2 linked regions of the Homo sapiens genome follow. The protein of the gene in region 1 purifies or fractionates together with the protein of each later gene. This does not show direct contact. Each region holds a gene or a part of one and is shown in the gene's direction. Other genes may lie near its edges. The genes, in order: SSX7 and WWC1.

Region 1 (4,339 bases):
TTCCTTCCTTCCTTCCTTCCTTCCTTCCTTCCTTCCTTCCTTCCTTTCTTTTCTTTCTTCTTTCTTTCAAGTATGGATGTATTTATTTATTTGACAGTCTTGCTCTGTCGCCCAAGCTGGAGTGCAGTGGTGTGATCTCAGCTCAATGCAACGTCCGCTTCCCAGGTTCAAATCATTGAGCGAGCCCAGAAAGTCAAAAGCAGCCGGGGAAAAATAGCAAAAGGCAGGGCGGTGCATGCCTGTAGTCCCAAGGCTGAAGCAGGAGGATCGCTTGAGCCCAGGAGGTAGGGACCAGCCAGGACAACATAGCAAAACTGTCTCTGCTAGAAAAATTAAAAATATTAGTGGTGGTGGGGTGGTGTGAGCCTGTAGTCACCAGGCTGAGGCGGGAGGATTGTTTGAGCCCGGGAGGTAGAGGCCAGCCTGGCCAACATAGCGAAACCCCATTTCTACTAACAACAAGAACAACAAAAAAATTGCGTGGGTGGGATGGCTCACTCCTGTAGTTCCGAGGCCAAGGTGGGAGGACTGCTTGAGCCCAGGAGGTCAATACCAGCCTGGCCAACGTAGCGAAAGCCTGTCTTTCCTATAAGTAAATAAATAAATAAATAAATAAATAAATAAATAAATAAATAAAATAAAATAAAATAAAATAAAATAAAAATGAGCAGGGCAGAATGGCAGTAGTCCTGAGGCCGTGGTGGAAGGATCCCTTGAGCCCAGGAGGTTGAGGCCAGCCTGGCCAACATAGCGAAACCGTCTCTTTTAAAAAATCCAAAAACAAAAAATATTAGTGGGGGTGGGGTGGTTCCCACCTGTAGTCGCGAGACCGAGGCGGGAAGATTGGCCAAGGCGGATGTAACCAATACCACAATCACATCCCATAAGTAAATACATTTTCCTCTCTCCAGGGCTACAGGTAAAGGATGGTAATTGTGCACACCACACTTAGATTCCCTTTCAAAAATGTAATCAGAGGTTGGAGGGCCTTGGACTGTTTTTTCAGTAGCAACAGATATAGAAGCCACTGAAGAATGAAAGCCACTACTAAGTACAGCAAAGCTCTGCAAATGTGCTAGTCTGGAAAACATTGTGTCTTTCAAGTAGAAAAATCACAGATCCGACTATTTTTTTCTTCTCGCTGTTCAGACTAGAAAACAGATTTTTAACCCAAGATCCAGGGACGGTCTTCAGAGAGTTCAAAATCTCCTGACGGCGCCTGAGGACCACCCACTTTGTCGCAGTGGCAACAAAGTGTTGCTGGAGGAGGAGACAATATTGTGCAATGTCACTATGCAGGGATGATGGACCAATCAGGGCAGTTAGTGAACTCCATCTGGCCAATCAGAAGTCAGAACAGTAGCGTGATAAGCGAAGCTGATGTGGCTTCTATCAGTCCAGGCTCCAGGGACAGAACCTTCTCAAAGTGGGGGTGGAGACTCTGATTTTCCCGCCTAAAGCATCCCCTGGGATTGGCTACTTTAAGTTCAGAGTATGCATGCTCTGACTTTCTCTCTCGATTCTTCCATACTCAGAGTACGCACGGTCTGATTTTCTCTTTTGATTCTTCCAAAATCAGAGTAAGCATGCGCTGATTTTCTTTTTCCATTCTTACTACCCCTCCCCTCCTCTGTGGTGCATTTGTTATCTAGTTTTAATAAGGAGTGTATGTGAGGCAGGTCGCCATCTCAAATCCTTCCTGTCAGTTTCTAACTTTTTCAGGTATGGGATTTTTCCTGGGAACTCTAGTAACTTAACAAATTTGGGCCGGGTACGGTGGCTCACGCTTGTAATTCCAGCAGTTTTGGAGGCCACAGCTGGTGGATCACTTGAACCCAGGAGGCGGAGGTTGCAGTGAGCCATGATCACACCACTGCATCCCAGCCTGGGCAGCAGAGAGAGACCATGACTCAAAAAAAAAAAAAAAAAAAAACTCACTCAAATCTTTCCTCCTGGGATCAAGTGATCCTCTCGCGTAGGCCTTGGGACTAGAGGTGCACACCACTCCGCTTCTGTTAATGTGTGTGTGTGTGTGTGTGTTTTGTTGTTGTTGTTGTTTTAGTAGAGATGGTTTCGGTATGTTGGCCAGGCTGGTCTCAAGCTCATGGGCTCAAGCGATCCGCCCTCCTTGGCCTCCCAAAGTGCTGGGATTACAGGCGTGAGCCACTGCGCCTGGCTGATTGCTGCACCTTGAAACTCCCTACATTCTCTCTAAGTGATGGCGGGCTCTTGTAGTCTCAGAAATTCTAGCTCTCTTCTTCTAATAATTTACAAATCACCCAGTAATAGCCTCTAAATCCGTTCATATTAGCCATGCTCATTTCTCTTCAACAGAACAGAACCCCCTATCCCTCTGCCTGATCAGATCCATCACCAGAGAGACGATGTTATCTCTGGGACTCATTTCCCTTCCATTATTTATTGAGTCGGGGTGTCAGCATGCCCCCACTGAATAAAATTACACAGTCACATCTCTGCCTTCCCAACAAGGGTCTGTACATCTTTCAGAGTAAGGCTAGCCCCAGGGAAACTACTAACAACATTAGCCAACCCCCTCCCAAAGACTCAAGGCTGCTTTGCCCACAGGAAGCCTGTCATCCCAAATCAATACTTCTCCCAGAGACCCCTGGTTCCCTATTTTCATCTGACTTCGCCCCATGTCATTACTCAGGGACAGATAAGCCCCAGATGGAGAAATGAAGCACCTGATTCCAGGTGACTGAGGGTGGCCGGCCTTCACTGATTTCTCCCTCCACAAGACCAAAGCTGCTGTGGCTGGAAAGACTCAGGCTATTTCTCTTGCAGGTCAGACTGCTCCTGGTGCCATGAACGGAGACGACGCCTTTGCAAGGAGACCTAGGGCTGGTGCTCAAATACCAGAGAAGATCCAAAAGGTGAGGTGACCTGGAGGGAGCAGAGTAGTGGCCCAGGGGACAGTGTGGGGTGGCCAAGTTTCTGAGGAGGGGAGGACAGAGATACTGGAGACAAGGACCAGGGTCTTGGGGGAGATCTGGATCCTTGAGAGCCTCCCATCCTCGCTCTGTCATCAACTAGCATCCTTGGAGACAAGTCTGTGACCGTGCACTACATTTGGTGAATCTCAGTCCATTCTGGAAAGTGGGAAGAGAGTCAGTCAGCAGCATTAAAGCCCTACTGTGTGGCAGGGGTGAAGCTAGGAAAGGTCGCTCATGTTGTCGGTTAGCCATGGCATCATCCCCACTTCCCAGATCCAGCACACAGGAAGGGGCTCCAGCTGAATGGCAGACATGTCTAGCTGAGTCACTGACAAAATTCCTTTTTTATCTTTTCCTAGTCCTTCGATGATATTGCCAAATACTTCTCTAAGAAAGAGTGGGAAAAGATGAAATCCTTGGAGAAAATCAGCTATGTGTATATGAAGAGAAAGTATGAGGCCATGACTAAACTAGGTAACAGAAAGTTCTAGGTACAGACAAGTCTGGGGACACATGAGCATCCCTATTCCTGCTTTGGCTACTTCTTAGGCTGCAGAAAGTACCCCACATTTTCCTTTTGTGCAGGGAAAAATCGCAAGGCAGCTTCTGGGTGTTCTCCTCTTCTGTATCCTGTCAGGGCTGAGGGCAGGGACTGGCCACAGTGGAGCTCATACCTGGATCCTGCACGTTTCTCTCCCTTAGGCTTCTGTTCTGATGAGTCCAAGTGTCTCTGTGGCATCCCGGCACCCCCACACCGTCCCTACCTTCCTTCTCTCGGCTTGTATCTTTCTTTCTTTCTTTTTTTTTGAGTCTGAGTCTCAGTCTGTCACCTAGGCTAGTTTGCAGTAGTGCAGTCATAGCTCACTGCAGCCTTGAACTCCTGGCCTCAAGCAATACTCCAGCCTCAGCCTCCCAAAGCACTGGTACTACAGATATGAGCCACCGTGACAGGTCAAAGCTTGTCTCTTAAGGAATAAACATTTTGCTTCTTTCTAGGCTTCAAGGCCACCCTCCCACCTTTCATGCATAATACAGGGGCCACAGACCTCCAGGGGAATGATTTTGATAATGACCGTAACCAAGGGAATCAGGGTGAGTAGACGGGAAGGGGCTGGAAAGGGTCTCCTCAAGCCCAGCTGCTTTTCAGCTCAGCTACTTGGGAAAGATCCTCAGGCATTTGTTCCCTCATACACATCAGGGCTGAGTGAAAAAAAAAAAAATTGCATGCAGAAAGTTAACTACAGAGGCCATTCATATAAAATTTTAAAACACGAAAAACAAGAATATATATTTTTATAGATAATAAGTAAATGGTAAATGTATACAAACATGAATGTGAATAAAAAGCCATCAAATTGAGGTGACTGGCTGTAAGTGGAGGAGGG
Region 2 (3,811 bases), on another chromosome or scaffold:
TCCATCACCCTAAAGCAAACTTTTTTTTAATTTTTTTTTTTTTTTTTTTTTTTTGCTTTAGCATTTAGAGGTGGTTGGAATTTGGTGGAACCGTCTGTCTTCCATAGAGAGTGTATCAAAATTGGGAGTTCAGGCTCCCCGAATCCCAAAGTGTTGGGATTACAGTCGCTGACGCCTGTAATCCCAACACTTTGGAAGGCCAAAGCAGGCAGATCGCCTAAGACCAGGAGTTCAAGACCAGCCTGGGCAATATGGCAAAACCCCATCTCTACAACAAAATAATAATTCAAAAATTAGCTGGGTATGGTGGCACATGCCTGTAGTTCCAGTATTTGGGAGGCGGAGGTGGGAGGATCACCAGAACCCGAAGTGGTCGAGGCTGCAGTGAGCCATGATTGTGCCACTGCACTCCAGCCTGGATGAGTGAGACCCTGCCTCAAAAACAAAACAAAATTGGGAGTCGCAAAGGCAGTTTCCTGGTTCCTGAACCTGCCTTTCCATTTTCCTTCCCTAGCTGTGAATACGGCCCAGGGGTGTGGCCTGAAAGTGGCCTGTGTCTCAGCCGCCGTATCGGACGAGTCAGTGGCTGGAGACAGTGGTGTGTACGAGGCTTCCGTGCAGAGGTAGGTGTCTGGGTGCTGGCTCTCTCTGTGGCCCTGTAAGCCATGAACTCTGAATATCCAGAGCCTAGGCCTGTGGAGAGGCTTAGGTTTTGGCCCCCACAGTGTGTGGGAGGAGCCCCAAGAGGGCATGACCCCACCTTCCTCTTGGCTGCCCAAGGCACAGACAGCATAACTTTTCCTGGGGTTAGAGATGCTTCAGGTTTGGGGGAGTGCTAGTTCTGTGGTAGCTACGAAAAAGGTATATGGCTAAGGAGCAAGCACTAGAGAAAGGGAAGGCCCCTTAAGAGAGGAGTCCAAGCTGGGCATAGTGGTGTGAGTCTGTAATCCCAGCTACTTGGGAGGCTTCAGTGGGAGGATCACTTGATACAAGGAGTTCGAGACCAGCCTGGGCAACATAGTGAGCCCCCATCTCTAAAAAAAATTTTTTTTAATTAAAATTTAAAAAAGGACCTGAAGGGAAGCTGAGCAAACCCCAACTTTCCTTCCTGGGGATGTAACCTCAGCCTCCCAGAATAGTTTGTTCACTGTAGGGAAGCCTAACTCCTCCTCCCCTGTTGCCTTTCAGACTGGGTGCTTCAGAAGCTGCTGCATTTGACAGTGACGAATCGGAAGCAGTGGGTGCGACCCGAATTCAGATTGCCCTGAAGTAAGTGACGAGGACGAGGAGGACAGAAGGAACGGTCTGTGTGGGGTCCCTTCTTCATCCACAGCGTTCCCCAGCATTTACCTTCACAGCCGCCCAGGGTGGAAGGCAGCACCAGCAGGACCTGCTGGCCATTGCAGCTTCTTAACTGAAGGGATGCTGATTCGTTCCTCACCTCCCAGCCATCCGCTTTACAGATAGGAGAAATGAGGTTGGAGAAATGGGGTTTTAAAAGACCTTATGACTTGGCCCAACTCACTGAGCTGGCTGGTAGCAGAGCCAGGACTGGGACTGAGACCTCCTGCCTCTCAGTGTGTTTGTTCATTGTTGCTGTGGCTTTTGTCTTTCCATCCCATCTAGGTTTCATTGATCTGGATGGAAGTTGATCACTGGGGGCTGCAGCCCAGATTGGGTCAATACACACATGGTTGTTCTTTTTGTTTTCTTTTGTTGGGGGATGATATGATCTCAATTTTTTTTTTTTTTTTTTTTTGAGACAGGGTCTCACCTGTCACCCAGGCTGGAGTGCAGTGGTGTGATCTCAGCTCGCTGCAACCTCTGCCTCCTGGGTTCAAGCGATTCTCCTGCCTCAGCCTCCCAAGTAGCTGGGATTACAGGTGTGTGCCACCACGCCCGGCTAACTTTTGTATTTTTAATAGAGATGGAGTTTCACCATGTTGGCCAGGCTAGTCTCAAACTCCTGACCTCAAATGATCTGCCCGCCTTGGCCTCCCAAAGTGCTGAGATTACAGGCATGAGCCACCACACCTGGCCTTCAATATTTTTTAATAGGAATTAGTTGACAACATTTCCATATCATGAAATTTCACCCGCATTTATGGGTTCTTTTTAAAAATTCAGACAACTGGCTGGGTGTGGTGGCTCACACCTTTAATCCTGACACTTTGGGAGGCTGAGGCAGAGGAATCACTTGATTCCAGGAGTTCAGGACCAGCCCAGGCAACATGATGAAACCCCATCTCTACTAAAAATACACAAAATTAGCTGGGTGTGGTGGTGAACACCTGTAGTCCTAGCTACTTGAGAGGCTGAGGTGGGAGGATCACCTGAGCCTGGGAGGTCGAGGCTACCATGAGCCCCGATCATGCCACTGCACTCAACCTGGATGACAGAGTGAGACCCTGTTTCAAAACAAAAAAAAAATTTTCAAACAATTGGCAGCTCTAGCTCTACATCCCTGCATGGCAGCAAAGCACTGGGCCTGTGCTCTAGAGCTCACCATAGGCCCCAGGGCAGCCAACAGCCACGTCCTGTGACTTTTAATGGAGAGAAGGAATGAGAGAGATGAGTGTGTTACTAATAGGTACTTCATATGCCCCTTTTCATTTCAGGTATGATGAGAAGAATAAGCAATTTGCAATATTAATCATCCAGCTGAGTAACCTTTCTGCTCTGTTGCAGCAACAAGACCAGAAAGTGTGAGTATGTAGCTGGACAGGTGTATTTCATACCCTAACCCTCTGGAGTTACCCCTGGGGGTCACTTTTCTGCCCTGTCCTGATCCAGTTATGGGCCTTGTCAAGGCACTGTGGGTTTGTACTGCATATGACTGTGATGCTGAATGTCGGTGCTGTGCATGTGAATACAGGCACAACGGCAAGCACACCAACTGTAAAGACAAGCACTCTCTAGATGACTGTGTGAATTCCTGCCCCATTACGTGCTGAGCACCTGCTGCATGCCAGCTCTAGGAATGGGGTGGTGAGCAGATCCTTCCTGGGCCCTACCCTCCTGGACTTTGAGCCTCATGGAGAAGAATGGTCACAGTCTGTTTTATCTTCTCCTAAGCTCAAGTGTTTCTTGCAGAGAGAGATAGGTCTTCTGTTTCCAAGAGTCAACACCAGTCACTGCTTCTCTTGGAGGGGTGTGACTGCGTGTTACCTTGATGCTGGTAGGATGCAAACACCTGCTCTGTCTGCCTGTGGGCTCCTCCCATGGTAGATGGGTTTATCCTTTATTGCACTCATCTGCCTCCAAGTTTTCTCTGATCGTAAGGCCTGGAGGGTGGCAACAGAAGCTTATGTGTCTGTGGTCTACACTCAGCCAGCCTGTGAGGGTGGCACATGTGGGAAGAAGAAAGGGCAGGAAGGCGGACAAAACGGAAGGAAGACAAGATGGGATGCTTGGGTCAATTTCAGTCTTCTGCCCACACAGACAGTGCCAGGCTGAATAGCCTCCTCCATAGCTCACTGGTACTCATGCAGGGGCATCTGTGGGATAATGCCTAGAAGTGAAGGGTCTGGACCAAAGGACAAATGCATCTGGAATTTTGTTCGATTTGTCAAAGTTCCTTCCAGTGTATAGGGGCCTGATTCCCCAGATTCCTCACTTCTACAAACTCTCATCCACTGTTGTTTGCTTAGGGATTTCAGCAGCTGTTTAGTCCAACATTTTAGCCCCAGACATGGGCTGACCCAAGATTTCCTGCGGTTCTGTCTCCCTCTAGGAATATCCGCGTGGCTGTCCTTCCTTGCTCTGAAAGCACAACCTGCCTGTTCCGGACCCGGCCTCTGGACGCCTCAGA

Evidence for each region.
Region 2: the proteins of SSX7 (region 1) and WWC1 purify together in Homo sapiens (affinity purification with mass spectrometry; one large-scale study listed by BioGRID and IntAct). This does not show direct contact.

Annotation. Positions count from the first base shown.
Region 1 is NC_000023.11:52,651,959-52,656,297, reverse strand, and holds the start of SSX7 (protein SSX7), read left to right. Parts: upstream 1-1,397; 5' UTR 1,398-1,536; intron 1,537-2,805; 5' UTR 2,806-2,825; coding exon 2,826-2,894; intron 2,895-3,313; coding exon 3,314-3,428; intron 3,429-3,950; coding exon 3,951-4,046; intron 4,047-4,339.
Region 2 is NC_000005.10:168,427,519-168,431,329, forward strand, and holds part of WWC1 (protein KIBRA), read left to right. Parts: intron 1-514; coding exon 515-623; intron 624-1,188; coding exon 1,189-1,269; intron 1,270-2,618; coding exon 2,619-2,705; intron 2,706-3,733; coding exon 3,734-3,811. UniProt on the Homo sapiens protein: Regulator of the Hippo signaling pathway, also known as the Salvador-Warts-Hippo (SWH) pathway.